Linked DNA regions of Homo sapiens: all the other regions are reported to be linked to region 2. The links are microRNA targets in miRTarBase. Many come from high-throughput screens and were not tested one by one. Region 2 holds a microRNA gene; each other region holds the end of a gene's coding sequence.
What was found. The annotated mature microRNA hsa-miR-3978 reads GUGGAAAGCAUGCAUCCAGGGUGU and lies in region 2 at 1,364-1,387, opposite strand. An mRNA with a match to its seed (bases 2 to 7 or 8) in the 3' UTR can be bound and repressed. Matches are read on the target gene's strand: a 7mer-m8 pairs with bases 2 to 8, a 7mer-A1 pairs with bases 2 to 7 and ends in A, and an 8mer does both.

Region 1: miRTarBase lists STEAP3 as a target of hsa-miR-3978. Seed matches in the 3' UTR shown: 7mer-m8 at 2,095-2,101 and 7mer-m8 at 1,993-1,999.
Region 3: miRTarBase lists SUCO as a target of hsa-miR-3978. Seed matches in the 3' UTR shown: 7mer-A1 at 1,536-1,542.
Region 4: miRTarBase lists STMP1 as a target of hsa-miR-3978. Seed matches in the 3' UTR shown: 7mer-A1 at 2,804-2,810 and 8mer at 2,772-2,779.
Region 5: miRTarBase lists PSMA7 as a target of hsa-miR-3978. Seed matches in the 3' UTR shown: 7mer-m8 at 897-903.
Region 6: miRTarBase lists FOXK1 as a target of hsa-miR-3978. Seed matches in the 3' UTR shown: 7mer-m8 at 2,919-2,925 and 7mer-m8 at 1,186-1,192.

Annotation. Positions count from the first base shown.
Region 1 is chr2:119,262,419-119,266,187 of GRCh38, reverse strand. It overlaps STEAP3 (STEAP3 metalloreductase), which reads right to left. Exons shown (of 6, transcript NM_182915.3): 6 at 536-3,131. The coding sequence ends at 2,850. It overlaps LOC105373581 (a long non-coding RNA gene), which reads left to right. Exons shown (of 2, transcript XR_001739666.3): 2 at 1-563. Among named protein-coding and RNA genes, the nearest start is that of STEAP3-AS1, 15 kb to the right of the region's middle. RefSeq lists a silencer at 765-864.
Region 2 is chrX:110,079,739-110,083,507 of GRCh38, reverse strand. MIR3978 (microRNA 3978) reads right to left here and starts at 1,390; the gene lies at 1,290-1,390. The region is part of intron 3 of TMEM164 (transmembrane protein 164); the gene reads right to left.
Region 3 is chr1:172,609,573-172,613,341 of GRCh38, reverse strand. SUCO (SUN domain containing ossification factor) reads right to left here. Exons shown (of 24, transcript NM_014283.5): 24 at 1,509-3,526. The coding sequence ends at 3,083. Among named protein-coding and RNA genes, the nearest start is that of FASLG, 48 kb to the left of the region's middle.
Region 4 is chr7:135,673,389-135,677,157 of GRCh38, reverse strand. STMP1 (short transmembrane mitochondrial protein 1) reads right to left here. Exons shown (of 3, transcript NM_001130929.2): 3 at 742-3,067. The coding sequence ends at 2,993. Among named protein-coding and RNA genes, the nearest start is that of STMP1, 13 kb to the right of the region's middle.
Region 5 is chr20:62,133,916-62,137,684 of GRCh38, reverse strand. PSMA7 (proteasome 20S subunit alpha 7) reads left to right here. Exons shown (of 7, transcript NM_002792.4): 6 at 259-321; 7 at 736-952. The coding sequence ends at 828. It overlaps LSM14B (LSM family member 14B), which reads right to left. Exons shown (of 9, transcript NM_144703.3): 9 at 2,311-3,522. Among named protein-coding and RNA genes, the nearest start is that of PSMA7, 7.6 kb to the left of the region's middle. RefSeq lists an enhancer at 3,343-3,769.
Region 6 is chr7:4,761,910-4,765,533 of GRCh38, reverse strand. It overlaps FOXK1 (forkhead box K1), which reads right to left. Exons shown (of 9, transcript NM_001037165.2): 9 at 1-3,350. The coding sequence ends at 3,070. Among named protein-coding and RNA genes, the nearest start is that of AP5Z1, 12 kb to the left of the region's middle.

The DNA.
Region 1 (3,769 bases), not on the chromosome of region 2:
GTGTGTGTACAGATTAGTGTGCCATAGACTAAGCACAGCAGAGGCAAAGAATGCCATCTAAGCTCTTGTCGCTCGGAGTGTCCGAGGATCATCACCATACAGGTCACCCAGGAGCTTATTAGAAATGCACAGTCTCATGCCTCACCCCAGACCACAAATCAGAACCCGCATTCGAACCACATTCCTAGGTGACTCCCAGGCACATTATAATTCAAGAAGCTCTGCTGCTTTTACCTGCACCGAGGCCTCAGCCTTCAGACCACTCCAGGAAGCCACCTTTTCACATCCCCACACCCCCACCCGACACTCTGTCACCTGGATCTTGCCCATTTCCTCCCTGGCATGTCCCTTAGTCCCTTAGGTCTGCACATCTGCCCTTCCTCATTGGCCAGCTCTAGCACAGATCACTGTGTTCACCTTGGCAGTCCCAAGTCCTTGCACACTGCCTGCCTGAGAGCAGGCTCCAAGCTGAAGGCTTCTCGAGTCAGTGGACGAATGGATACGTGATCTACATGGCAGAAATAAAAGCCTGAAGTTTGCAGAAGGTTAGGTGTTTATTTGCACTGCTTTTATACTGTCTACCAGGTTAAAAAAAAAAAACAGAGACTCTTTTGAAGGCATAGATTTTAGATATCAACCTCAGACTGTGGCATTTGGGATTTCCAGAGCATGTCGTTGAGGCACTTTTGTACCCAGAGGCACATGGAATTTACCAGGCTGTGGAGATGATGTGCTCTCGGGATGCTGCTGCCAGTAGCCTGGTGAGGTAGGGAAGACAGCAGTGGACGCACAGTCAGGGCCCAGTACACAGCCCGCCTGCCTTTCGTGTGATTGTCCAGCAGGTGGCACCTGTTCCCTCCTGCCACCCACCTTATAATTGCTTCCCTCTTGAGCACCTTCAGCCAGAGGTGGGTGGGAAGGGGAGGACGTGCACTGGGTTCTGCTATGTGCCAGCATCTTTGGTATAAGGAGCCATTCCCTGGCCCAGGGCAGGCAGCCAGTACCCACCGGGGTTGGGGATCATTGGTGGGTCTCCATTGCCCATGCTCTCCCTGCCTCTCATTAGTAGGGAATCGATGGGCCCTTGTTATGCCAAGGCAATGCTAAAATCTCTGCTTTACCTGCCCCCTTCTCAGCAAGGCTCTCTGTGGGCCACAGCTGATGCTCCATCAGTGCCAATTTATGAGACAAGTTTCTGCCGCTCAGCCTTGGCACAGCAGATGGAAAATACCTGCAGGAAGAGCTTCCCCGGCATGGCCTTCCCTGCATCGGTCATGTGCCTAATGAGCTATCCTTGCAGTGGGCTCTTCTCCTGCTTTTCACTGAAGAACCCTTATGTGCTGCATAGACATGAGCTCATGAAACCTCCCTGGCGGGGGGGGGGCAGGGGCAGCCTCATCTGTGACATTCTCTCTGGGCAGCCTTCACTGGCCCTACTCTCTTCCTTCCATCAGAAGATGGCTTTGGGCCCAGGAGACTCATGAAGACCTCACCCTCTTTGTCTTCAAAGATGCTTTTTCTGTGGCAGATCAACCTGGTTCTGCAGAGGGTTGGGGGCTCAGCCGAGAACACCTGTTTCTTCACAGGGGAAGTAAGCTAGAGTCAGTAGGGAGCAGCAAGGATGGCCTGTGACTGGAGGACAGACGTCCTGTGGCCCCGGCGGTGCTCTTCCCTCTTGTGCTTTGGGGCAGCAGCATTTTAGGTTTGTAGCTTTGGTGGAAAAGTTGCTCCCCACTGTTTTGAAGTGTAATGCCCCATGAGGAGGAAGTTGGAGCCAGTGTGGTTTTCTGGGTCCTCTGCCAGAGGACATTTGGAGTCCCCAATATTTTTCCTCAGGACTGACTTCGTGAAGACAGTCCTTCAGCCCAGGCAGGGCTCAACTCTGACGCCCGGGGAGCTTTACTCCCTAGAGTGTTTTCTCTTGCTCTCCCCCTTGGGCTGATTTCTAAAGGGTCTGCTCTAGGCCTTCCTGGGAGTCATTCAAACTGAAGATGGAAAGGGTGAGAAGGCACAGTGGTTTAAAGGACGCTCATCGCCAGGTTAAAGGAGGGAAGGAAATTACACTTGTTCCCAAGCCAGGCTCACTAATGGCTCTGGAAAGGAGGTGACGTCACTCTCACAGGAGGATCCATTTGCAGGCTCTATGGTGACTTCTGACTTTCAGGGAAAATGTCTCCCCCACTCAGCAAGGATGAGGTGGAGCAGCTTCAGCCCAATCCCTCCATCCTCCCACCACCGGGCAAAGGACCAGGCACAGACTCCAGGCCGACTGCCTGATTTTCCTCCTCCCCAGGCCTCCTGCTGCTGCCCCAGGTGGAGGGAAGAGACCAGCCGCTGCTCACATGCTCCAGGGATGGCTCTGGGCAGAGCCGTTGCCTTCCCTCCCCTTCAGAGCCCTAGCTCTGCAAGAGCCTTGGGGAAGTAGCAAAAGGGAAGTTGTGGGGGTGGGGTGGGCAGGGATAAATCGAACCCACCACAGCACAAGCCTCTTCTGTACAAAAAGTGTGTGTATATCTCTGCAAATGTCACAATAGCATGATCTGCTCTTCTCTTAACGTACGGCACTTGTTTTTAAATCTACAAGTTGAAATCTCAGAGACCCAACTTTTTAGCTAGCTATGTATAATTGCAAATCCTGTTATATATGTGGAATATATGTAAATACATATACACATATGTGTGTATATCATTCTGAATAGTACTGCATACATTTGAGTCCCAGGAATTTGGACCTCAAACCTCCTATTTGCACACAGTTATACCACTTTGCACCACCAAGAAAAGAAAACCTAACGGGCTCAGGGCACCGTCCCTCGTGTGCCCGGGGTCCAGAGCCCAGGGCAGGCACCTCATACGTGGCTCGTCTTCTCGGCCAGGGCGTGGTCTGTGGGCAGCGTGAACTTGATGGTGCTCTCCCTCTCCCAGCCTCTCCGGATCCTGGCGAGTCTGCGGCTGATGCAGGGCAGGAGAAACAGGGCTTTGGCCAGGATGACGACGCAGGGCACCAGCAGCGTGAGCGTGAAGGTGGGAGGCAGGTAGAACTTGTAGCGGCTCTCCTCGAAGGCGCGGGTCCAGCCGTAGGTGAGCGTGTGCAGTGTGCTCAGCACGAGGGCCACAAAGCCCAGTGAGGACTGTGGAGGGAAAAAAAGGCTGGAGTGAGGGCGAGGGGATGACAGATGCAGTGATCCTGCCAACGACTCATCTGCTGGCCTGGCGGAGGGGAAGGAGGGTGGCTTTAGTACTCACCGCTATGGGTTGGAACCCCAGTCCTGTCACTCTCTTAGTGTGATCTTATGATAACTCTCAACTCTCTGTGCCTCAGCTTCCACAACAGGAAAATGGGAATAATGCTTCTATGCTGAAGGTGTCTAAGGACCCACCAATTCACACGGATTCCATACAATAACTATATGACCATGCTTTTTCCTTAACTTTGTTATTTGTTATCTCTGGAGGCTGCTGGATGATTTCAGATGGAATTAAGTTCAAAGAAGTTTAAAAAACATTTAAGGCCTGCTGCGGTGGCTCTCGCCTGTAATCCCAACACTTTGGGAGGCCTAAGTGGGTGGACTGCTTGAGCCCAGGGGTTCAAGACCACCCTGGGCAACATAGTGAGACCCTGTTTCTACAAAAAATACAAAAAAATTAGCCAGGCTGTGGCAGCATGTGCTTGTTGTCCCAGCTACTTGGGAGGCTGAGATGGGAGGATCACTTGAGCCCAAGAGGTCAAGGTTGCAGTGAGCCAAGATTGTGCCACTGCACTACTGCA
Region 2 (3,769 bases):
GGGTAATGCGCTAGGCTGCAGAGAAAGCAAAAGAAATCTGGTTTACCAGCTGTTGCATATATAAGGGTATGAAACTGATGGAAAACCCAAGAGAGAGATCAATGAATAATACAAGCTGAAAAAATCCTAGCATATAGAAGAATTTATGTATGATAAAAGTATAATAGCAATAATCATAGGAAAATAGTTATTTGATGAATGGTGCTCAAATAAATGACTCTCTAGGGGAAAATATAAGCTATACTCTACTTCATACTAGTCACAAAATGAATTTTTGATGGACTGACAAGTTAAATATTTTTAAAACTATTTTAAAACTGGATTGTTTTAAATCCCATTCTAACCTTAGAATGGGAAATGTCTTTTCAAGTGTAAAAGCAATGGAAGAAATTACCATGATCTGAAGGGGGTTTAGAAATCAATCAATTTGACCAATAAAAATGTAAACCAAATCTATTATCAAAAGCATCATTAAAAAGTTAGAAGACAATCTGGGGAAAACATTTACTGCAAAAGTGATAAAAGATTAACACTCTTTATATATGTAAAACTCATACAAATCAACAAGGGAAACACCTGTACATCAAAATTCAGCAGAGACCATGAGCTGACAATCTACAGAATAAAATATGTAAATAGCTAATAGATATAAGTAACCACCATATTATGTATATGTTCCAAATTACCCATAATGATATTTGAAAGAAAAAAAAACTGACACAAAAGGCAAGGGAAAAAGAAAAGAGAAGCCACCAGTGAGATGTGAGATGTGTTGGGGGAACTGGGGGGTGAGGGGGAGGTCTGGTTACACTGCAACACAGTCCTTTATCCTATCCCTGAGGTTTTCAAAAGGAAATCTTATTTGTTAATAACTGGTGAGGCAGGCTAGTTCATATTTTGGGACTGGGTCGGTTCCCTAAGATGAATGAGACATGTAACGTTTTTCCAAGTTAGTAGCAGGATAGTAAGTGCAAAACCATCCCTAAGGATATGTTGGTTTTATTCAAACCGAAGTGAGGAAAAGAATTCTGTGGCTTGGATGTCAACGGCACTGGTAGATAGCTCTTCAGGAAAGTACCATTCACATCAGCCAAATGAGTCAAAAGAAAATGGCTCAGATTCAAAGAGATACAGAACAGCACTGCATGTACAGACACAATACAACAAACAACTCTGACGCTGCTATGTAAGCATTCACAGAGAAGAGGAGCCAAGAACAGGAAGGATAAGAGGCCTTCAGAGGCAGAAGACTGCCAGGCTGGAATTCTAGGAGTTGGAGATACTAGAGATCAAAAGAAAACGATGCCCAAGGTTGCTGTGGTAGTGGGCCAGGTAGAATTTTGGCCCTTCTAATTTTGGCTCCACACCCTGGATGCATGCTTTCCACTGAGGCAGCCCTTCCAGCAGCAGGCTATAGCAGCAGGACTGAGCAAGTCACATGTCAACTGAGGTACATATAAATGAAGCATTCCAGGACCCAGACATAACACTGTGGTACTATCATTCCCTCTTGTCAAGTGTACCATGGGAACCATGTGGAGAATCCTGTCCCTTCTCCACCCCAGTGGGAGTTGCCAGCCTTTGCCAAGCACAGGACATGCAGCCTGCTGCACACGTCATACCCCTTTCCTATAGTGGCTGGGCATGCCTCCAGGAAGAACATGCTGGCCCCTGGTTAGCTGGGAAGCTGGTAAACTCATGTGTGGCTGGCACAGCAAAGGGCCCATAGAGAAAGCAAGAGAGATAGGTATATGATGCTAGTCAACAAACCCAAAGAACACACGGGCATAAAGATCACAACAGAGCTCATCCATGTATACTGAGACATAGGGAATTTTAAATAAGATGCTTTCATACTTTTAACAATTTAAACAACAATGGGATAGTAGAAAATATTCACTTCAGCAACACAAGGTCATGATTAGCAGCATGGGCTCTGGAGTGAGAGAAACTTTGGATCAAATCCTGCATGTACCACATGCAAGCCACATCCAGTCATGTAAACTTTCTGAGCCCCAGTTCTCTTGACCAAACTACTATTAATAGTACCAGTACTACTATTAGTACTTCCCACACAGTTTTGTTAGAAGGATTAAATAAAATAATCAATGTTAAGTGTTTCCCACCATGCCTAGGCACACAGTAAACCTGATTATGTTATGATCACTGGCAAGAGAAGAAAGAATAGGAATCCTGACTCTGCCACGAAGTAATCTTAGCCAAGTTATATAATATTTCTTGGTCCCCTACTGCTCTATTTATAGTATGGATAATGTATTCGCTATCCCCCAATACTATTTTAAAGATTAGATGAGAAAATTTAAAGCAAAGAACTTTTAAACAGTAAAGAACAATACTAATGTAAAGTTAAAGTATTTTAAGGGCTCTCTACTTTTTAAAATACTGATTTTTAACTCAACATGGTATTTCCACACAATGGAATAATATGCACCCATTAAAGATGGTGTGTATCAGCCACCGTGTTGGCTCATTCCTGTAATCTCAGCACTTTAGGAGGCCGAGGCAGGAGCATCACTTGAGGCCAGAAGTTTCAGACCAGTGTGAACAACATAATGAGACTCCGTCTCTACAAAAAAAAAAAAAAAAAAAAAAAAAAAATTATTAGCTAGGCATAGTGGTGCACACCTGTGGTCCCAGCTACTTGAGAGGCTGATGTGGAAGGATCACTTAAGTCAAGCAGGCCAAGGCTGCAGTGAGCCGTGAATGCACCACTGCACTCCAGCCTGGGCAACAGAGCAAAACGTGGTCTCGAAAACAGAAAAAAATGTTGTGTATTATAAAAAGTTGGATAACTCTCCAGGGAATTATGCTAGGTGATTTTTAAAAAGTCAGCCTCAAAGGTAATATAAGGTATAACTATATTTACACAAGATTCCTAAAATAGCAAAATTATAGATATGAAGAATAGATTCATGGTTGCCAGGGATCAGGGATGGGGTTTAGATATGTAGATGGTGGGTATGGCTATAAAAGAATGACAGAAGAGATCTGCATGGTGACAGGACTGTTCTGCTTTATCAGACCGTATCAATGAAAATATCCTGGCAGTGATACTGTACTATAGTTTTGCCAGAGGTTACCAGTGGAGGAAATTAGGTAAAAGGTACATGGGATTTCTTTGTGTTTTTTCCTATATTATTTTTTCTACATTATTATACTTAATAGACAACAGGTCTTCAATAAGTTAATGGGAAATACATATTATTACAAAAAACTATGCATGGATTTCAAATTTTCAGCACCAAAATAAACTCGTGCTAACTTATTCTAACATGTCTGAACAGGATCTAGTTTGAGGCACTAAGAAGGATAAGACACCAGTTTGAAAAGAGCCCCTACCAGAACAACAATAATTCTGCTAAAATTGAAGCAAGAACAAACATCAAATTTATAGTGAAGCTTGGGTGGAAGGATGGTGAAATCATTTATGCTTTATAAAAAGTTTACAGAGACAATGCCCAGAAGAAATCAGCAGTTTACAGGATAACTCATTTTTTTTAATTATTATTATACTTTAAGTTTTAGGGTACATGTACACAATGTGTAGGTTAGTTACATATGTATGCATGTGCCATGCTGGTGTGCTGCAACCATTAACTCGTCATTTAGCATTAGGTATATCTCCTAATGCTATCCCTCCCCCCTCCCCCTACCCCACAGCAGTCCCCAGAGTGTCATCATTTTAAGAAAGGGTGAGATGTTGATGATGAAGCCTGCAGTGGCAGACTACCTACATCAATTCGTATCT
Region 3 (3,769 bases), not on the chromosome of region 2:
ACTATATACTGTGTATTAGATATTATGGAGTTATTAATTTTCTTACATATTATACGGGTATTATGGTCACATAAGTGAATGTCCTTACTTTAGGAAAAAATATGCTACAGTATTTAGGGGGAAAGGGTCATAATGTCCCAACTTGCTTACAAATGGCTCACCAAAAGATGTTTCTTTATATATATACACATAACACACATACATATCTTTATACATACATATATACATATAATACACATATACATATAAAACACATACACATGAAGAAAACTAAAAAGATTAGCAACTGGTGAATCTGGGCAAAGGCACATGGTGTTCAACTTATCTACAGATTTGAAATTTTTTAAATCAATCAGTTGAAGAAAAGCAGTACTTCTAAGTTGTCCTGTTGTGTGATTTTGAATAGACTTATCCAATTACATTAACCAATATAAGTTTATATCTATCTCATGTTCATGCGTACAAGTTTGTATATTCAAACTGAGGACACATCTAAAAATGGAAAAATAAGCAGCAAGGTAAGGGAAGCACAATAACTGCAGACGGAATAAAAAATGTTTGCCACTGGGAAGCAAGAAATCTTTGGTAGAGAAAGATGGGTGGTACTGGTAGTGTGTGTGTGTGTGTGTGTGTGCGTTGTGTGTGAGTGAAATGGTACAGAATAGAGAACTGTTTTCTGTTCTTACTTTATAAGCCTTATAAAACTAATTTATCAAATTATATGTATGCATAACTTTTTTTTTTTGAGACAGTCTCACTCTGCCACCCAGGCTGGAGTGCAGTGGTGCAATCTCAGCTCACTGCAACCTGTCTGCCTCCCAGGTTCAAGCAATTCTCCTGCCTCAGCCTCCTGAGTAGCTGGGACTACAGGCATGTGCTACCATGCCCGGCTACTTTTTTTTAATTTTTATTAGAGACGGGTTTTCACCATGTTGGTCAGGCTGGTCTCGAACTCCTCAAATGATCCCCTGCCTCGGCCTCCCAAAGTGTTAGGATTATAGGCGTGAGCCACAACTTTAATGTTTTTAAAAATTCAATTAAAAGAATTGTTTTACTTTGCATCCTTGTTCTTACCAATTCCCTAGTTTCCTTTTATTTCATACTGTTTTAATGCTTTACTTAACATTAGAAGAAATAAAATGAGGTTGATCATCAGGGAACACTAAAAATCCCATTGGATAAATATCTATATAGTTTTTGCTTCTTAATAGGCATAAATCTATTATTTTCACTTAAGTTTTTTTTCTCATGTAGTTATGTGAGAGAGGAAAAAATAAACCTCATGTTACAAAATGTTATGCTGTATTTAGATATGAAAAACTGAAATTCTGATAGCATAGGGAGCAAAATGTTTATGTAAAAGTACCATCATTTTGTAGTTGGCTGAAATGTGATCAATATTGAATGGAATGCTGCTATATTTAACTTTAAAAGTGGCAAAAACTTAAATCTCTGTTCAAAGATTAATAATTTCTGAGTTCTCTTTTAAAAGACAGAAGAGCCAGTAATTAATAAAGACAAGTGTTCAGATTTATTTGGAAATTCACAGTTTCTAATGGCACTACAGCTCCGTAGTTACATATTGAAAATTCTCTTCCCACAACACACAGATCACATAATTTCTCACTGTATCTCTGCTCTCATCTGGACCTCTTTTCAAGGGGCTTCTATAAAATCAGGCCCTCTTGCTCTGAATAGCTAATTGTGCAGACAGGAAAGAAATTTAAATCTTCTAAAACACGCTGTTAACCTAAAGCAGCAACTTAAACAAACAAAAAAGGCGTTAAATAAGTCACATTACAAACAATACCCAAGAAAGGTATTAGGCAAGTTTAAAAACAGTTATCACTACTAAAAGTGCTCAATAAGTTATAACTTAAACATCACAACAATAAATGGTCAATTCTCTCCCTTTCAAAAAGAAACATGTTCCACTTTCATTCATTACTGTACAATCATACTAAGAAATCATTTTATTCAAATACAGTTGCTGCCAATTATTTTTTAAAGACAAAAAAAAAGACAGAGACATCGACATCACATATGTATTACCTCTGCACATTTGTAGCCAATACAAAGCAAACATCAAGGAATAATAATCTCTTTAGACTTAACCAATTAGATTAAGCTTGACAAACTCACTAACTGGATCTGTGCATATGTATGCAGGCAGTGATTATATCATGAGACTTGTACTAATTGGCCAAACCTTCAAATTTTATATTCATACTAATAAAAACAGTGAAAGTTTGGAGGATTAGTGTTTATTGTGTATGTTTAAAATGTAAGCTAAAGAAAACCTTCACAAATGGTTAAGTGTGTTTAAAAGGTGAATTTGTCAAAAATTTGTCTGCATATATCAGTTGTTTGCAAAAAAAGATCCTGTAGGGATTTTTCCTCATTGAGTTAGTAACTAAGTAAGAAGTAATCCAGTCTGAATAAGTGAAAATAACAAGAGCATCACCATCTACCTAACAGAACAGACTTAAAAATTCCATTAAGTGTTCATTTCCAGTGAGTTTGCTAAACAAAGATCCAGTTGGCAAGTTTTTAGGATCTTTAGACTGTCTGATCCACACTCCTGAGCTTCAGGCACAGACCCCCTCAAAGCATTGTAGTGTTTGCAGCTTCAAAAACCTAACAAAGTTATAAAAGAAATCAAATAACAGAAAAAGTTATCCCTCCTCTTCCAGTGGCATTATAAATAGACAAAAGGCACATAAATATGGGAAGGTGCAAGAAATAGGAACAAAGCTAAAGGAAGAGGTTTAGGCTTTCATTCCTATCCCACCTAAGGAACTGGGCTTCCAAATTACTTTTGTCCCAGTAATTAATCTTGTGAAAAAACATCTTTATAAAATGTCTACCATTGTCCTTATAGGAAGTGATCAGCTTTGTAAAACTGTAGCTCATTAACCAAGATTGACACAATCCCATCTACTTTTTAAAAAGGTAGAAACCATAATTTCTGAATGCCTTTCCCATTAATATTTTCTCCCTCCCCCAAACCCTTCAAATACTACAGACTGTTCTTCAAAGAACAACAACAAAAAAGTCTTCTGTATGAAAAGTTCAATTAATTTTAGATATGTCCCGAGACTGCTGTAACACCAAATGTTCCCACGGTGATCTCTTTGTTTCCTTTGATTATGTCATGCAGGCTCGGCAATGATCCCGACTTAGTCTGTATTAGAGTTTTTATCAATTTTCCTTGGTCTTGGACTTTAGATCGTCTTCGTTTTAAAGCCCTCTTCTCAGTTTTTGTCTTTTGAGACTGTCCATTGCACAGACTTGTGCAAGCTGAAATGCCACAAAAATAGGACTCTTCTGACTGTGATGAAGTTTCTGAGCTTCCTTCAGATGGAGGACCTTTATAAGAAGAGTGATAAACTTCTCCCATATTAGAAAAATCTCTCTGGTTCGTAAAGGGCTTTCTTCCTTTTATGTCGCCATTGGCTATGGGGTGCAATGGTTCTTCAGGCTTTATGGTCTCAATTTTTTCAATTTTGTACTTGCAGCGCTTCTTCTACAACACAAGTAAAAGAAAAGTTAGTAATGATACTTCCCATAGTAACCTTATCAAACACCTAGAGAGCTGAGCTAATAGAGAAGTGCCACCTCCTGGTGAAAAGTAAAACAGTATTATAAACAGCACAGAACACATACATTGTTATGTTCTATATAGATACTAGCATCATCTTCCCATTTTGTAAATACTACTGAATCAAAACTCTTTAAATTGCTTACCTGCTACCTATGAATATAGGTT
Region 4 (3,769 bases), not on the chromosome of region 2:
TGTGGCAAGGGTTCCTACAAAATTCCCAGGGAAGGGGTAACTTTCAGTGCCATAAACCCCATTCACAGTAAGGATTTTCAACTACACCCTAAAACTATGATGGTTCTGGGCTCCTCCAACATATAGCTCAGTGAAGATCATCTTGCCTGAGAACTCTGAGGTCCTTTTCACTGCTGCCAAGAACATAAAACTAGGAGAGGGTATCTGAATGGTGAATGCAAAGTCAGCCTGCACTGTGTAGCAGTTTACATGATGAAGCCGAATTTAAGAACTGATCTGCTAGATGGATCCCACTGGTAGAAATGATCCCCTTGCCAAGGTTAAGTGTCACCTCTAAAGGAAGCCCTAAGTCCAAATGAGCCTTGTTTACAAGGTATAATATAAAGAGACCTATCCTTCTAATAGCTAAGTGACCTCCAATCCCAAAGCAGCCACTCTGGGAGACCACACACACCACAGCAATGCTATCATGGTTGGTAACAAGGAATCCCTCTTTGGAAACAGCTTTCTAAGCTTCTAGCATTTTTAATACCCGCAAGGTAAACTTTCATCCTTTGAGGCTGTAGTTCATTGTGCTAACAATTCAAGATCAAATCTTGTGAGCCAGATGGTACAATCCAGGTGGATACTGTAAATTTTCATCAGTATCAAAAACAGCGACTACAGAATAATGACAAACTTTTTGTGTGGTTCATAAACTGATTCCAAAAGTGACTGCAGAACTAGCCAAAAAGCAACAAGTTTGTACTAATAGCTACTATTTATTAGATAGTCTGCAAAGCACTGTGAAACATTACATACATTATCTCAATTATTTTTTATGAAAACCCTATGAGGTGGATATTTACGTCCACGTCTACAGATAATGCAAGAGTTTCTGAAAGAATAAGCTACAAACCCGTGACATGCAATTTACCTATTAAATGAATCTAAAAGTTTAAAAAAGCTGGGCGCAGTGGCTCACGCCTGTAATCCCAACACTTTGGGAGGCTGAAGTGGGCAGATCACTTGAGGCCAGGAATTTGAGACCAGCTTTGCCAACATGGTGAAACCTCGTCGTTACTAAAAATACAAAAATTAGCCAGGTGTGGTGGTGATGCCAGCTACTTGAGAAGCTGCAGCACGAGAATCACTTGGACCGGGAGGCAGGAGTTGCAGTGAGCCAAGACTGTGCCACTGCACTCCAGCCTGGGCAGCAGAGTGAGACTCTGTCTCAAAAAAAAAAAAAAAAAAAAGCCACTTGCCCATGATCACGCTGCTAGGAAAAGTCAAACCATAATTTAATCCTAATCTGTCACACACAAAGACAACATTGACAGGAATAAAACTTACTTCCATGTAGGAGAGATGCAAGTTGTCAAAGAGAAGCAGAATCACTTTATCATATACAGAATCAATGTCATCACTGTCTGAAAAAAGATGCTCTGAACAATTCTTCCAGTTTATTGATTCTGAACCTGCCATGTCTTCAAAAATGGCATTATTAGTGAAGCTGCTCAACAAGTCCTCTGAAACAAAACAGCTAGCGAAATGGGTATTTGTATTTAGTCTAAATTATACTTTTAGGACTTCATCTTATAGCTATACCCTGAATCGATATGCTTAATAACATTAGGATTGAAGTTATCACTGTAATAGCAAAAGAACAACCTAAGCATTCACCAGTAGCAGATTAAATCAATTATGTTATATCTATTCAAAAAAATTTTAGGCAGCCAAAAAAAGAATGAGGTTCCTTGCTACTTACATGCTGGTATAGAATGATCTCCATTAAAAAAGAAAAAAAGAAAAAAAAAAGGCGAGGGCTAGACCTCCATGTATAGTTACTATTTGTGTTACACGTGTTTGTTTAGGCACAGACTCTTTCTCAAAAGTATAAGGCGAAGTGGTAACAGTAACTTGTCAAACAGGAGCCAGGAGCCAGAGAACAGGGGTGGGAGAGGCCCTTTATATGAAATTACTTTTGTATCTTGTCCCATGGCAAAAGTTAATTATTCAAATTTTTTTTTAATTTAAAAACAATACAAGCTGATTATACATTTGACAAATACAAGGAATTTCTGACTGCAGGAAAAAACAAAGCATCAACTACAAAGAGAAGCAGAAATTCTTCTTGAGCTGCTGATTTTACTATACATTTGGGCTATATTTTTTCTTAAGACAATCACTACAAAGTAATAATATAAATACCTTTTTTAATGTGAAAAGGTATAAAATCTCCTTTAAAAACTTTTCACTTATCCATCATATAACATCAAATGTACCTGTAATCCCAAGTATGATTCTTTTGAGAAGGAAAAAAGTCAGATCAAATACATCATTAAGGAAAAACATGCACACTAAATAGACTATGAACTCTACTGGGACAAAGACCATTATTTTGTGTATTTTTTCATTCCCCAATTCCTGACAGGATTCTCAGAATCGTTTCTTCATGAATAGCAAATTGACTTATTGGTTAAATTAGCAACTACAGAGCTGCCTAACAACAGTACAAAATAAATGAATAATTCACCAGAAACTAGCTCTAGATACTAATTTTAATTACTTTGCAGCAACATAATTTAGTACCAAATGTTTAACAAGTACCCATTATAATTACTAAACTGTGAAGTCACTATTATTTGTATCTGACCAGCTATACAAAACTCATCAATTTTTCTTTTGAAAAAAGGTAGTAAAAATCGCAAACGATAAAGAAGACACTACTCATTAAAAGTCATGTTTACTAATCTAGCACCATAATTCCAGTCTTAGAACCTCCCATGCAGTTGGAAAGGGATTATGGGAAGAGGTGAGTATGTTGGAAATGTCGGGTAGTTCTCAAATTGGGGCCCCATTTTGCTTGCTTTAAAGCAAAAAACACAGGGTCTAGCAAAGAAGAGAAGTGCTGAGGCTGGAGACGAAAACAAAAGCTTTTGGTTCAGATAGTAAACGAGGCCCTCAAGAGCAGTAGAATCAGTATATCCTGAAGGCAGTGCTGGAGGCAGTCTCATGCACTAGGGGGTTTCTTCTTGGCATCCAAGTCCTTTTTAATTTCTTCAAGTTTTTTAGCCAGGTTTGGTATCTTTGAAGAGAAAAAAGGTTATTATAATTTTGCATCTACCTAATCAATATTCTTGTACTTCTCTTCCTCCAAAGATAAATGGTTTTACAAGCTTTTATCTTCCTCCAAAAGAGATCTGCTAAATAGTGGTTATTTCTTTTTGCTTTCTTTTTTAAGATAGGGTTTCACTCTGTCACTCAGGCTGGAGGGCAATGGTGCAAACACAGCTCACTGCAGCCTTGACCTCCAGAGCTCAAGTGATCCTTCCCGCCACAATCCCGCAAGTAGTTGGGACCACGGACATGCCACCACCCCTGGCTAATTTTTGTATTTTTTGTAAAGATGGGCTTTCGTCACACTGCCCAGGCTGGTCTCGAACTCCTGAGCTTGAGCAATCTGCCCACCTCGGCCTCCCAAAGTGCTAGGATTACAGGCGTGAGCCACTGCACCCGGCCAATAGTGGTATTTCTTAGCCTTATAACTGCATGTGAAAGATATCAGAAGTTGTCAGATAAGTATGCTCCTTCTCTGAAACCCACTTCTACTTTTGTATACCCACTTCCGCTCGATCTGGTGCCAAGTAAAGGTTGTACATATAAACAATAAATGTGACATAATGTAGCCTTTGCCTAGAAAACTGTATGACTCAAACGAAGGTTGACAAAGGAATTCCCTTTGTCATATGAAAAGCTTTATAACAAATCAAGTTAGTATCATGTTTCC
Region 5 (3,769 bases), not on the chromosome of region 2:
AGAGGAGGGCCTGGAGCAGCGCTACTGTGCAGGAGAGAGGAGTCCCAGTGCTGGGAGGCGGAGGGGTGTGCAGGCATCCCAAACAGACTTCACAAATGGCCATGAGTTTAGGACAAAGACACAGGTTTTGGGGGCTGGGACCTCTGTTCCTGGGACGGTGCTGGGTTTGGGTACACACCTATTTAAGGTACTCCTGAGAGCTGCTTTTGTCTTGAATAGGGAAAGGTGGTTAATGCTCCTGTCTTCTGTCCCTTCAAGGTGGTTCAGTCAGGTGGCAAAAACATTGAACTTGCTGTCATGAGGCGAGATCAATCCCTCAAGGTAATCACCAAGTTTGTCTGCTTTCTTTACCTGTCAGTTTTCTCCCATGATCAGGGCTGAGCAGTACCAGTTCCGAAGGAAACATCATAGGGCCATTCTGTGGTTTTAACATTAGGAAAATGTCTTTCTGAGGCTCCCCATACGTCAAAGAGAAGATTCCCATCTTCCTCTGATTAGATGGTCCACGCGTGTTCTCTGGGCATGCTGAGCGGCTGCCAGTCAGATCTGCTGCTGCTGCTACTGCTGCTTAATACTTGTCTAGGTCAGGCCAGCATCCTCTTGTTTTTCTTGAGGTTCCTCTCCAAAGAGGCTGTATGAGCAGCAGTGCCAAAGCCTGGCCGCCCTCCCCAGAAGAGGGCGCTGGTTCCTTGGCACCTTGTGTGGCTTAGGTAACCATGAAGTTTTTTTCTATAGATTTTAAATCCTGAAGAAATTGAGAAGTATGTTGCTGAAATTGAAAAAGAAAAAGAAGAAAACGAAAAGAAGAAACAAAAGAAAGCATCATGATGAATAAAATGTCTTTGCTTGTAATTTTTAAATTCATATCAATCATGGATGAGTCTCGATGTGTAGGCCTTTCCATTCCATTTATTCACACTGAGTGTCCTACAATAAACTTCCGTATTTTTAACCTGTTTTTTTTTTTAAGAGAATGTGTATCTTTAGGTGCAATCACAGCAGTCCTCTCATCTCTCACCCTTCTTTTTCAACCCTGAGCCACCGTAATTGAGCTTTCCTTTCTGTTCCTTGTGGCTAAGACAGTAAGCCAGTGTGAGACACAGGTTCCTCCCTTGGGAAGTCAGAGCTGCTGCCCTGGGTCCTGCAGAGAAACCTGGCCTTCAGCAGACCTGTTTCTCTGTTGTAGACACAGAATGACTTCCGTTTGCTTTTAGACCTTCATTCTAGTCCCCTAATGAATGTATAATGTCAAGGACACAAACACAAGTAGCCCTGGGTTCATTCTGTAGAGCAGCAGCTTTGTTCAAAGCAGCTTTGCATGTCTGACTTTCATAGACCACATCTTGACGTCTGCCCCCTATGTTGAAGACTGGTTCTGGCTATTCTCTGCCCTTTCCTGTGTTTTGACTTCTAGTCCCACAGTTTAAGGCTTTTGGGTCCTCTGGTCCTTGGTTTTGGGCATGTATCTTCTAAAAAGGAGTAAAGGGGCCCAGATACATTTTGAGCTCAGCGTAAAATGTACAGTTGTCAAAACAATGAACATTTTAACAGCAAGGTCAGCTGGCACACGATAACCTGACTACCTTGCGATGCTCTGGGAGGCAATACCTGTTTCACCAAGTTCTCTAGCTGGGTGAGGACTGTGGCCACCAGTATCTGGCACACGTAACATTTATTTTTCTGCTGGTCAAGGATACCCATTACCCCCACCCAAGAAATGGGAGGGCCCCCCACTGGCAGTTCTGCTGTGGAGCCTGATGGCCACAGGCAGGTAATGAAAGGAGAACTCATGCAGCTGGTGTGTCTCCTCGTCCTCTCTGAGGGCCACTTTTAAGGTCACCTGGAAACCCATTAGACTAAAATGGGATGCTCTGAGCCTAGAACCAGCCATGTCTTTGTTTTTCTGCGTGGGTCCAGGGTGCAGCTTGCTCATGGCTGTGTAACATGCTCTACGGTGCCTGAGAACCTGAACGCTCCTGAGCTGGGGAGCTTGGAGGCAGCAGGAAGGTGGCAAAGGGGCCACTGCTTATGATACAGGTGTTATCTGTGAGCTGGGTTTTTAAAAGAACTTTGTATCCAGTTTCTGAGAGCAGAGCCATTCATCCCAGAAGGGTGGCCCACAGGGAGAACCCGGGTCTGCTGGCCGCACTTCACCCGACCAATTGGGTCAGCCACCTCGTTCCATCACCTGATGGGGCCCAAGTCTCCCCAAATTCCACCAGCCTAAGTGTGTGCTCCAGACCTGGACATGATGCAGAGGTGACTTGGGCAGAAGAGTCAACAGGATTCTTAGAGCATCAGAAAAGAAAATTTTAAAGGTTTGCATGTTTATTTATAATTACAATTTACATTACTCCAACAGAGGAGCCCCCTTGCTATGTTCTAATTCTTAGCCATTAAGTCCTACAAAAATAAACCCAAGCTTTTACAGTAACTTAATCAATACAGAACTAAAGCCTTTATAGCTATTAGAGGGGTTTAGTTACCAAGGTGCTTATTTTCGACAAAATGCCCTGTCACTCAGAGGACGCATGCGTATACTAAAGTTCTGACCCATCGACTCATGCAACAAATGTAGACCCCACCCTCCCTCCACCCACTGTTACAACACAAACACAAAACAACGATGTACAACAGAGGGGAAATATGCTCTTGGTCAACTGACCTTGCAGAAAAGACTGGCTTGTTTCCAAGTGGATGAGAACGCCAGTGTGTGGCCAGAGTCCAGCAATGACTGACCGGCCCAGGTCAGAGGCTGGCAGGGACCACAGAAGGGCCAAGGCGCTGCCGGGGCTCATCCCAGGCTCCAACCCCAACCTGGAAGCTTGTGGACACCAGGCTCTGTGCAGCAGCTCCGTGGCTAGCGTCCAGGGCCCCTGGCCACTACTCCCAAATGCTTCTAGTCCACCCACCCCTGGCCAGCCCCAACCTTGACATCACTGTGGATGCCATCAGGGTGGTCTGGTTCACTTATACAACATGATCCATGGGAAAACCCCTTCCGTGCCCTCCACCCACCCACCCCTGCCCCCCACGCCACCCTGTGCTGGCCCTGCCTGACTCCTGAGACCCCACCCTTGGCAGTGGGGTGCCAGGCCAACAGCACCAGGGGCCAGCTGGGTTACAGAGATGTACTTGGCTGCCACCTCTGCCAACAGATTTGGTTCCACTTTTAAAAGTCAAAGCTTGTCATTAAAAAAAAAAAAAAAAGTCACAAAGTAAGGATTCAGCTTTCACTATAGAAACCTTTTTGCAAAATACCAAAACCTTAGAATTAGGCTATGCGCAACTAAAAAGGAAACACAGATAAAGAGACCTCAAAGAGGTTACCCATGAATACTTCCCCAAAACAAGTGGTTCTAACTCAGACCATGTCCAAGTTCAGTTAAGTCCAAAACACAAGTAGCAGTATGGGTCTCTTCCAAACTCCGTAAACAAAGTGACCACCTCTCCCTGTAAGTGCAGCGTTTTCCTCGCGTCCTGACACACACAGCGTCAGTTATGCGCCACTTCAGTAGGAGCCTGCAAGAGATGACAGGAAGTCAAGCATCTGCTGGGATAAGCTAGCACTGTTGCCCCTGCTGGCGAGCAGGAGCCACTCAGCCTCCCTCCTGCCCCCAGAGTCAGACTGGCTACCCCCATTCTTCTCACAACCCACTCTGAGAATCCTACTTGTACAATACACTGGGGACAGGGACGCAGCTAGTGGCAGGAGGGCTAGTCTTTCCAGGGCCCACCTGGCTGTCCCGAGGCGCTGGGTGGGGTTGGC
Region 6 (3,624 bases), not on the chromosome of region 2:
TTTGCTCCCCACATTCCTGCACATTGCCCGGGTCAGCTCACCCTTGAGAACCTAGAGAAGGTTCTTGGGTCCTGGCTCCACACGGCTCAGGGTCACAGGCCGCCCAGGCTGGGGGCTGAGGCTCTCCCGGTCCCCCTGGCCTGTGCTCTTGCTTCTGCGAAAGCGCCTGGCTGGGAGGCGCTTGCTGGGCTGGCTCAGGGCACACAGGGAGGGCTTTGTGGCCGGGACATGCAACCCTTTTGGGCCCTGTCCCTTCCTGGGCCTCTGGCTACCGGTTCCAAGACAAGTTCCGGCATGAGCCAGGCATGGTACCTGCTCAGATGACCAAAAACTCTTTCAAAATCTCATGGTTATGAGCCCAGAGCAGTGGATCCAGGACCCAGGCCTCCTCTCCTTGCCCTCCTCTCCCTGCCCTGCTCCGAGTCTGAGCCGACCCCTAGGACCACGTCCCTTCATCCCTCTTTGCAGTCCCCGCAGAAGCTAGACAGTGCAGAACCCCACACGGCAGAATGCAGCCCCGGGGTCCTGTGCTCGCCACCTCCCGGCTCCATCCACCACCCCCTTTCCACGCCCTTGGCAATGAAGCAGTGAAATCAGAGAACGCTACCGCTAACAGGAAGAATGCGCTGCGTCTCAGAAGCCAGGAAACCACGTGGGTCAGGGCCAGCCTGAGCAGACCAGGCCAAAAGGCGACCTCGATTTGTGACCAACACGTGGTGCAATCCCAGCACGCGGCGCTCCCTGCAGACATCAGCTTGTATTGAGGAGGCCAACCTGCAGTGGCCCAGAAGCAAACAGAGGTCTCCCATCAGGGTGGCCACAGGCAGCCCTGAGGACATATAGTCACCACGCGGGAGAGAGCAGCAGCAGGTAATCACAGAGGCCCCCCGTGACGGGCGCTCCCGGGAGGGCGCCGGCTCAGGCCACACAGGCACCGGTGTCGGGGAGCCACCTCCAACCCCCACCCCCCGTTCTCTCACGCCATGCACGCACACACCAGGCACCACGGAAAGAAAAGGCCCACAGACAACAGCAGGCGACACAAGTGTGGAACGGGGCGCAATCTCTCACCCTCCACGGACGTAACTGCACCCAGGACAGCCGGCTGTGTTCATCCTGCCCCCGTTTCTCTGAAACCTCACCCAGGGCAACAGGTACGGACTTCCACAAAGAGCTTATTTCCCATGGAAAGGTTAGTGCCATAGAAACGACTCAATTCGGGGGGCTTAGAAAAACAACGGGACACGGGAAGGAAACCGAACAAGGGGTTTTCTCTATCTAGGTGGAAGGAGGGGGCCCACAGAGGTTCTGCACTTGTCCTGGGGGACGGGGACTCTGATGGGGGCCACGGGCGACCCCACTCCACTGCACAGCACGTGTGTCCTCCCGCACTGCCTCGGAATCACTTTGAAAAGTGTTCTCCCTTCTTCTTCAGGGAGACACCTGTCCAGCCACCTCCCTCAAATGCCCTCCAGGCACCTGGGTCCCTCTGCAGCTCTCCCGCCAGGGCCTGGGCAGAGGCTGCTTTGCTGGTGAGAGGCTGTGATGCGGAGGACGGGCGATTTCCAAGAACCACTGCTCCTCAGGCACTTCCGGAGCTCTGCGTCGAATCTGTCGCTGTTTCTCGTTGTGGTCCCGGACAGGAGAGCCAGCGCCGGAGCGGCCAGCAAAACTGACAGCTGACCTTTACGAGGACGCACTTCGCATCTCCAAGACACACTGAAGGACTCCTCTCTCCTTCCTGAGCTGGGCTCAGCATTAGACAGCTCTGGCTCAACGCTGCTTGGTGACAAAGATCCAGGAACCACTGGCTGTCTTAATGGAAGTGCAGGAGGGGGCTTCCTCAGGGACCCCAGAACCACCCAACTGGCTGGAGCATCCCGTCCTCCGGTTCTCACCGTGTGGCAAACAAAACCAGTCGCGTTGGCGGGGGCTGGGCGTGGAGGCACAGGCCTGCTCACCACTGCTGCTGGGGTGGGGTCTCCTGCTCACGGACAGCCCAGGGAGGGGCCCTGGAGTTTCAGGCAGGAGAAATGGTTCCAATTGAAAACAGCAGATCAATGTGGGAGTGGTGAGGACTCTGCAACTGGGTGAAAAAGCAGCTGGAGCAGATGGCGTTTGGCACTGTTAGGTCCCCATGTGGCCGTCAGCACCGGGACATCGGAGCCACGGATAATTCGGGAAGGTCTGGTCTGCAGAGCAGCGGCCCCAATCGTCCCCAGCAGCGCGATGTCTGCGGCCGGCGGATCCAGGCTCACCTTTCATCCTAGGAACCTTCCACCGCGAACGCCAACCCAGGAAGCCGCTGCTCTTACTTGAAGTTATCAGACAGAGCGGCAGGTTTACTCTTCGAGGGGATTAAACCCAGCGGGAACCCTGGACCTACGGCCGGTCATCAGACGTCAACAGGTAAAATCCTCAAAAATACATGATCCCTTTTGTGTCTGTCTCAGGTGTACAATGAAGTCTGAATTCCATGTTTAAACAAACAAAGAAAAACTTGGGGTCTGAAGTGAAATCGGACACCCCCCGAGTTAATGCCAACACTCTCTATGTCACGTTCCGGGCGGAGAGGCTGTTAGGTGGTCCGTGGCTCGGCAGCTCCTGGCTTCCCAACAGGCATCTGTCCGGTGCCCGGGCCTCCCCGGCAGCCTTGGTGTGTGCCTTGCTGCGTTTCTGTCTGTCCTCCCGGACAAAGGCGGCTGGCCGTGCAGCGCGGAGCGGAGGGGCTGTCTTGACACATTCCTCAAGATGCTGAGCTCCAACCTCCTCCCCATGCCCGACAGGGAGGCCTGGGGAGAGGAGGTGGTGCCGAGGGAGAAGGAAAGGAAAGCAAAGAATTCCCAGAATCATACAATCAGTTGTCTGAACTTGTTTATGTGTTTTTGTCTTAAACCACGGGAAGGCAGGCGATCAAATGGAAAGGGCTGGGTGTGTCCAGGTGCCGCCGATGCCCACAGGCCGCCGCGGGCTGTTCTCCTCCGTCTGTGGGTGCGGCCGCCTGAGCTGCCGGGTCCAGCTTCGGGGTCGCCGCTGGGTGAGTCCCACTCCCCCGCGTTGCAGGTGACCTCACTCCCCGGTGCCTGGCCCCTGGGGGCCGGCAGCTGCGATCACTCCAGCCGGTGTGGTTACAGCACCACTGGGCTCCTCCACCCGGGACCTTTTGACCTCGGGCTCTCCAGTGGAAGAGGCGGAGGCAGAGGCGGTGGTGGCAGTGGCTGGGGTGGTGGTGGCCGTGGCCGCGACGGCTGCTGCTGGCTCCTTGGGCCCCACCTCGCACACCCGGGTGACCACCACCGGCGCGGATGAACTCGCTTGGGTCGCAAGGAGCTGCAAAGGGCTGGTGAGGGCTGGAGTGGAGGAAGAAGAGGGTTACTCTGGGGTCTGGTTAGGACCCAGCTGCTTTTTTCAAGTCCCCTATACAGGGGCTAAGCCACCAAGCCGGAACCGGAGGTCAGTGCACCCCTGCCAGGCAGGACGGCTACCCTTGCTCTGCTCCCTGCGGGCCCTGCCGTCCCCTCCCCACCTCATCTGCCCTGTCTCTGCTGGCTCCAGCCTGTTGGGTGGAGGCCCCTCTCATTGCTGTCTAGATCCTGCTGGACATCGACGGCTTGCCTCACTCCT